Homo sapiens: one gene and its partner. The protein of the gene in region 1 purifies or fractionates together with the protein of each later gene. This does not show direct contact. Each region holds a gene or a part of one and is shown on either strand. Other genes may lie near its edges.

Region 1 (3,438 bases):
GGGGAAGGTTCTATGAGGAGGTGATCTAGAGAGAGCCTGGGATGGGGTGAAAGGTACAGAGGAAGGAGAACTGGACAGGGAGTCAGGCTGAGTTCTCATTTTGACTTGTCACTTAACTGCACAGCAGGGACAACTCCCTCAGCATCTCTCCCTCACCTGATTATTCATTAAATAAAATGATGTATGTAATAGTAACTTTCAAGAGTAATGTATTATTATTAATAATGTTAAGGCCTGTCACATGATTAGCATTTAAAGGACCAATGGAAAAGTTATGTGTAGGGACTTTGAGTATTTCCTGCTTGTTCATGGCTGTAGACAGCCAAGCTCACCCTTTCTGGGGTCCTACAAATTTCCAACGACCTCAAAACACTGAGAATATAAAACAGGAGGAAGCATTCAATCTCTTCACTGGATGAAATGTGAGTATGTGTTAGCACATGTATGTGTGTGTATGTGTGTGTGGGGGCTCTCCCGAATGTGACAGACAACCAGCAGTGTTTCCCAAAGCAAAACGAAATGGTTTATTTAAAAACAACGCATTCAGTACTGTGTTTGGAACACAAGGCAATGAGGCAGGCACATTCACACTTAACAAGTACATTTGAGGAGCTGTCGAAGCAAATGGTTGCATTTTCTTCACAAACTACAGTCACAATATACACGCAATTGCCTCTGTCCTTGTTCACCAAGAAAGCAGAAGATATTTACAAGTTCCTCAGTCTAGCAGTGCTGGCTTCTCTTGGGTCTCTGTGGCCCTCACATTCTGGCAGCTTGTTTCCAAGGGCAGGCGAGGCTGCCTGTCACAAGGGAGGTCAGTCTGATTTGTTAAGGCCCTCGGCTTCTTCCAAAGAGCAAGAGAACTTCTGACAGAGTTGGGAAAGAGGGAAGTTTTCAATACCAGTATCTCAGCATAAAATGGCACTTTCCAAAACAAATGCATCAAGTGTTGAGTGACGGGGTGAGCGGGCAGGGAATCACGGTATTAACAATATAAGAAGCATTTATTTTCCCTGACACATACTTCTTGCTCATTTATTTAATAACTTACATTCGCTATTCTTCTACTTTTTGACCTTTTGGTTTCATCATTACTCTTAAAGAGCTTTGCTCCTCCTTCTATACTGATACACTATTCTTTAAAATGCTGAAATGCAATGGTGAAATCAAAGTATGTTAAGCGAGAGAAGATATCACAAACATTCTTTTGTCTTGACTTCTAATTAATGCTTTCACAATTAATTGTCAATGTCCATCTAACTAATGGAAGCAGCACAGTGTGGTGTAGCAGAATCAGTGGTTGGGAGACCCAGACTCTAATTCCAGTTAGCTAGCTGGGCAAATAAGTCACTCCAACTTTCTGAACCTCAGTTGTCTCATCTCCACATGGAGGATGTTGATCTGGAATCCTGACTTGAGATAACATCTAGATCTGTAAAGTTTTGCTATGGACTTAGGTGGTTGTCCCATGTGAGTAAATGATAGTGTATTGCGATGTTTCCATACATTTGTTTTGTGTCCTGGGAGAATTTCAGTGCTAACTAATGATGCTTGGTGACCGGATCTCAGCCTGTTACTCAACTCCTCCCAGGGCTCTTGGCTGTAAGCGCTCTTGTGCTTTTCTGCACAGTATGGGTTCAGATCTGGATCTTGAAATATGGCTAAAGAGCACTTCTAACATGGGGTACAGTTATTCTCCATATTAAAAAATGGTCTAGATTCCTTCAGAGGGAAACCTCCCTCTTCTTTTTGCAAGTACTTCAATGACTTTATTCCACTTATGCAGGTTGACCAAACCTCTTTCCCATTGTCTGCCAATTTTTCTTCCCTGCCAATTTTCTTCCCTAAGACTAAAAATGCTATGGGAGTGGCTGGTTCCTCAAGAATGGTTTTCTGGTGAATTTGTTCATAATAAAACAAGGCCTACCTGTCAAGCCCCTTGTGCTTGTAGCTGTGGACTTCTCTGTTTGGTGTCAGGAAAAGAGCCAGAGGGTGAAGGCATACTTGTGCTCAGGCTGCATGCAATGTATTGGGAATACAGACATCTGAACATGCACCTGACTCATTTAAAATAAAATGTAGCTTGCTCAATGTAGAGAAACAAGCTCATTTCAATGACCATTAGGAAGAAAGAAAATAGAGGTATAACCTGGCATTTTACACATAGTATAGAAAATGTCCAACTTGCGTTTCAAGCATTTACAGTTTAGAAATGCCTTACAGAACCTGTAGGGTATTTTATTATAGCAACGGAAGTAGATTTGGTCCTTCATGATCTAATTTTGATTTAGTACATGCAGATAACAACTTACGGCCACTCACTGTGTCCTAGGAATTAGGCATATTTTTTCCCAGCATTGCCTCTCCAAAGATTTAATGAAGCCCACCTAAGAATGACTTCTACCAGAAAAATTTGCAATTTGCAAACAAAGCTTGTTCTGTGGATTACCAGATTACCTGATTTCTAAACACTCAGTTGGAAGTACACTCACAACTAGTGGTGAGAAAGGACAGTTGCTCTATTGCTCAATGCCAGGGGACTGCAGGGGCCAAATGTGTATTAGTAGATTTTTGTTTTTCATGGTCCAGCCTTACATCACATGACACCTTATCCTACAAAGTTTGCCCAGTCAGCAATGAAGTTGCCCAGAGATATTCCTACCAAGTGGTATTTCTTCACCGTTGGAAACTTTTCTAAGGGCAAATCAACTCCAGTTGAGTGCAACTTAAACTCTCAGCGTGATGTTTACTGGGTGTCCCCTGGTGGGGTAGAGACCTTGGAACCTCAGTGCCTTTCCAGATATGTAGAGCCAAGTGAGCTTACTGGGTGCCTTGTTCTTCCCCTGCTCCTTTGCAGGCACTGTTTTGTGGGTACCTGTATTTTTTTTATTGTGTCAGAAGGATGAGGGGCAAGTGGATAGGGAAAATGACAAAGTTGGGGAAACAAGTGATGAACTATAGGTATAGATTTTTTAAAAAAGATCAGCCAAACATGGTTTTAACTGGTAGTTAAATTAAAGAATGTTTTCCTGGAGGGTCACCCTTAGAAATTAGAAAAGCCACAGTTGGTAATCTCCCAAGATACTGGGGAGTCTGTTGAGAGGTTCCTAAGAGTCACGTGGAATATTTGAACACCTTGGGATCCAATAATATGCTCTTTTACTAAAAATCAGTAAAACTAACCAACATGGAAATGCTTCCCTTGGTGGAGGGGACATTTAAAAGTCCCTCCAAAGCCTCTGCTAGCCTCTCCTATTTGGTACTCACTGACTTAAAAATTGTTCAGGCAGTGCTATGCTGGAGCTGGCTCATGCTGTATTGGAGCCAACTTATACTGGCTCTTGAAAACATATTGTTGTGTTTTCAGCTGGTTGACATTAAGTTAGTAGCCTGAAATTGGCTGAGATGAGAGTATTTACACCATAGAAATTGGTAGGT
Region 2 (3,500 bases), on another chromosome or scaffold:
GTTGACTTAAACCATTTTCTTAGGGAAGAAGAACTGAGCATATGCGAAATTCATTTATACCGCTCTGCTCCTAACCTGCCTCAGTGTGAATATGTGCTTCTTGACATTGTTGTGAGTGATATGTACTTGCTAGTGTAGTCTTTTTTTTTTTACATGGCATGATTTCATATTTACATTTTCCTGCATAATGACATTTTCTATACACTTGTCATTTTTAATAGCACTATAATTTTCCATCATGTTGACATCCTATAATTTACCTTGTTATTTCTTGATTGCTGAGCGTTTGGGGAGTTTCCAGTTTTTCTTCACAAATAGCACCGTGTTATCTTTAGATAAGTTCATTTTTTTCCCTTTATATTCTTGGATTTATTTCTCAGTGAAATCACCCATTTGAGCAGGAGTGGTGGTGCTGCTCTTGTCACATAGCACCAAACGACATTTCAGAAAGAACAAGCTGATGCGGGCCGTGCCGGCATCACTGCCCCCTCCACCACGTCCCCACCCTGGGACTTAAAAGATTTAAACTTTTTTTTCCAAGTTAAAAAATCTTGGCCGGGCGCGGTGGCTCACGCCTGTAATCCCAGCACTTTGAGAGGCCGAGGCAGGCGGATCACGAGGTCAGGAGATCGAGACCATCTTGGCTAACACGGTGAAACCCCATCTCTACTAAAAATACAAAAAATTAGCCAGGCATGGTGGCGGGTGCCTGTAGTCCCAGCTACTCGGGAGGCTGAGGCAGGAGAATGGCGTGAACCCAGGAGACAGAGCTTGCAGTGAGCCGAGATCGCGCCACTGCACTCCAGCCTGGGCAACAGAGCGAGACTCTGTCTCAAAAAAAAAAAAAAAAAATCTTGGCCGGGTACAGTGGCTCACACCACTAATTCTACACTTTGGGAGGCTAAAATGGACAGATCACTTGAGGCCAGGAGCTCAAGACCAGCCTAGGCCAACACGGCAAAACCCTTCCCTACTAAAAATACGAAAATTACCTGGGTGTGGTGGTGCATGCCTGTAGTTCCAGCCTCTCAGGAGGCTGAGGCGGGAGAATCGGTTGAACCTGAGAGGCGGAGGCTGCAGTGAGCCAGGATCGTGCCACTGCACTCCAGCCTGGGTGACAGAGCAAGGCTCCATCTCAAAAAAAAAAAAATCTTAAATATATACTTTAAAACATTGTCTTTTTTGCTTTAATTCATTGTTAAAAATAGTGTGACATTGAGGGCAAATATTTAAAAGAAAAAAGTCTCCTCTAGTACCTCTCCAGCACACTTACTTTGGTTTTTGTTGTTCCTGCACATCTGCGTGTGTTATTATTATTATTATTATTATTATTATTATTATTATTATTATTATTTTGAGATAGAATTTCCCTCTTGTCAGCCCAGGCTGGAATGCAGTGGCGCAATCTCGGCTTACTGCAACCTCTGTCTCCTGGGCTCAAGCGATTCTCCTGTTTCAGCCTCCCAAGTAGCTGGGATTACAGGCGCCCGCCACCATGCCCAGCTAATTTTTTTTTTTTTAATAGAAACGGGGTTTCACTATGTTGGACAGGCCGGTCTCGAACTCCTGGCCTCAGGTAATCTGCCAGCCTCGGCCTCCCAATGTGCTGGGATTACAGGCATGAGCCACCGTGCCTGACCACCTCCCTCGCTTTCTGAGCTTCCTTGTTTCTTTGCCCACTCAATGCCCACTGAGCATCACTTAGTGGTGTTTGGCGTTCACATCCCTTTGGCTGAGACGGGGTCACCCTCATTTTGGCCCCCAGCCCTGAGCACAGAACCTGGCACCCAGCAGGCATCCAATCCAGCTTTCAAGGTTTTTTTGTTCTGCAAGTGCTGGCTTGAGCAGATCCTTCTGGATTGGCCAGCTGGGATCCTGTGGAAGCCCCAGGGAATCCGTACGCCCCAGGCAAGCCACGCCAGTGTCCAGGGGAGTGACCAGCTTACTTTTCTCCCTCAGGACTTCCTGGGCAGATACCCAGTCTCCAGGCACTCCTGGGTGGGGGCCTGGCGAGGCCCCCAGGGCTGGCACTGGATCGACGAGGCCCCACTCCCGCCCCAGCTGTGAGTGACCACGGGCTTTTCTCCCTCCTCTGCTGTTCTGGATCCTCCATTTCTCCCCAGACTCCACCTCCTTGCTGCTCCCCTAGCCTGGAATGCCACTTGGAAAGCAGCCCACGCCCATGCTCGCGGCCTGGTGCCTGATTAGACCCTGTCGCTTCACTCTTTATTTGGGTTCCCAGCACGTTCACCCAAGCAGGGTTGTCACCCCCATTTTACAGATGCGGGGTCAGCTGCCCAGGGAGGTTTGGGGATTCATCCAGTGCCACGTGGCTGACCAGTGCAGTGACTCACTCAGTGCCCAGGCCGGTAGAGGTGACAGGCACACACGCTGGAGGGTCTGGCTGGGAAGCAAGGCCCCGGCACCCTAAACACCTCTCCTCTTTCCCCTCCCATCCTTTCCCAGACTCCCTGAGGACGGCGAGGACAATCTGGATATCAACTGTGGGGCCCTGGAGGAAGGCACGCTGGTGGCTGCAAACTGCAGCACTCCAAGACCCTGGGTCTGTGCCAAGGGGACCCAGTGATCTGGGCTCTGCCTGGTCCTCAGCCTGCCAGGCAGATGCAGCACCCCCTACAGGGGAGGCCAGTTGAGAGCTTGGGCAGCCTCTTCCTGGACCCAGTTATCCAGGTCTTCATGCTCTGCTCAAGGGGGCCACATGAGCGAGCCTAGGAGCTGGACTTCAACCCAGGAAGATGCATCCGAGGGAAAGGAGATTTTCTATGGCCTCAGGCCTGAGTGCCAATATTAGTCTCCAGCTTCTGTGGATGATCGGTTTGATGACATTGGGATGGTTGTTTAGCATTTCTGTGCCTTGGTTTCATTAAAATGACAATTTCCCCCTAGAGGAAAAAGACAGGGTTAACAACCACAGCGGATTCCAATCTGGGTTCTCATTCCGGCTCATGGAAATGAGTCTGCCGTTGTTCAGTGGCAGTGGGACTTGGCAGGGATAACGTCATTGCTGTGAATTCTACTTCAGGCAGCTGGGTGTACATCGGACACAGCCTACCGGCAGCCTCTGGAAAATTAACCAAGGAAAAGGAGCGGTCAGCCCTGGAAAGAGGGGAGAGCAAGGTTTTCCTTCCCCACCCTGAGAGTTGGCAAAGGGTTGGCAGACAGGAAGGTTCTGGGTGGAGATCCCGCATGTGGGCTGGCCAGCCCCTGGCACGCTGATGCCCAAGGGTGAGACAAGGCAGAGAGGACAGGGCCACCTGGCAGGAGAAGCCAGGAGAGCACCCCAGCTTGGTAGGTGGAAGCTGAGGAGTCTGAGTGAAAAAGGAAATCAGAGAAATGCAGGCACGTTCCAGGCAGCTCTTCTACCCACAGCTGCAGAGACGACCAACCTGAAGATGTCTCCATGCTGGGGTGCAGTGAAGACCTTCAGGCTGGAGGATGTGGCTGACAGAGTTGTGTAGTTCCTTGAGTCCAGCTAGACC

What was found. The genes of interacting proteins can lie anywhere in the genome.
Region 2: the proteins of ST8SIA3 (region 1) and KLRG2 purify together in Homo sapiens (affinity purification with mass spectrometry; 2 studies listed by BioGRID and IntAct, with this or other methods). This does not show direct contact.

The regions. Positions count from the first base shown.
Region 1 is NC_000018.10:57,365,994-57,369,431, reverse strand, and holds the end of ST8SIA3 (alpha-N-acetylneuraminate alpha-2,8-sialyltransferase ST8SIA3), read right to left. Parts: 3' UTR 501-3,438; downstream 1-500. UniProt on the Homo sapiens protein: Catalyzes the transfer of sialic acid from a CMP-linked sialic acid donor onto a terminal alpha-2,3-, alpha-2,6-, or alpha-2,8-linked sialic acid of an acceptor, such as N-linked oligosaccharides of glycoproteins and glycolipids through alpha-2,8-linkages.
Region 2 is NC_000007.14:139,452,674-139,456,173, reverse strand, and holds the end of KLRG2 (killer cell lectin-like receptor subfamily G member 2), read left to right. Parts: intron 1-1,959; coding exon 1,960-2,063; intron 2,064-2,466; coding exon 2,467-2,587; 3' UTR 2,588-3,484; downstream 3,485-3,500.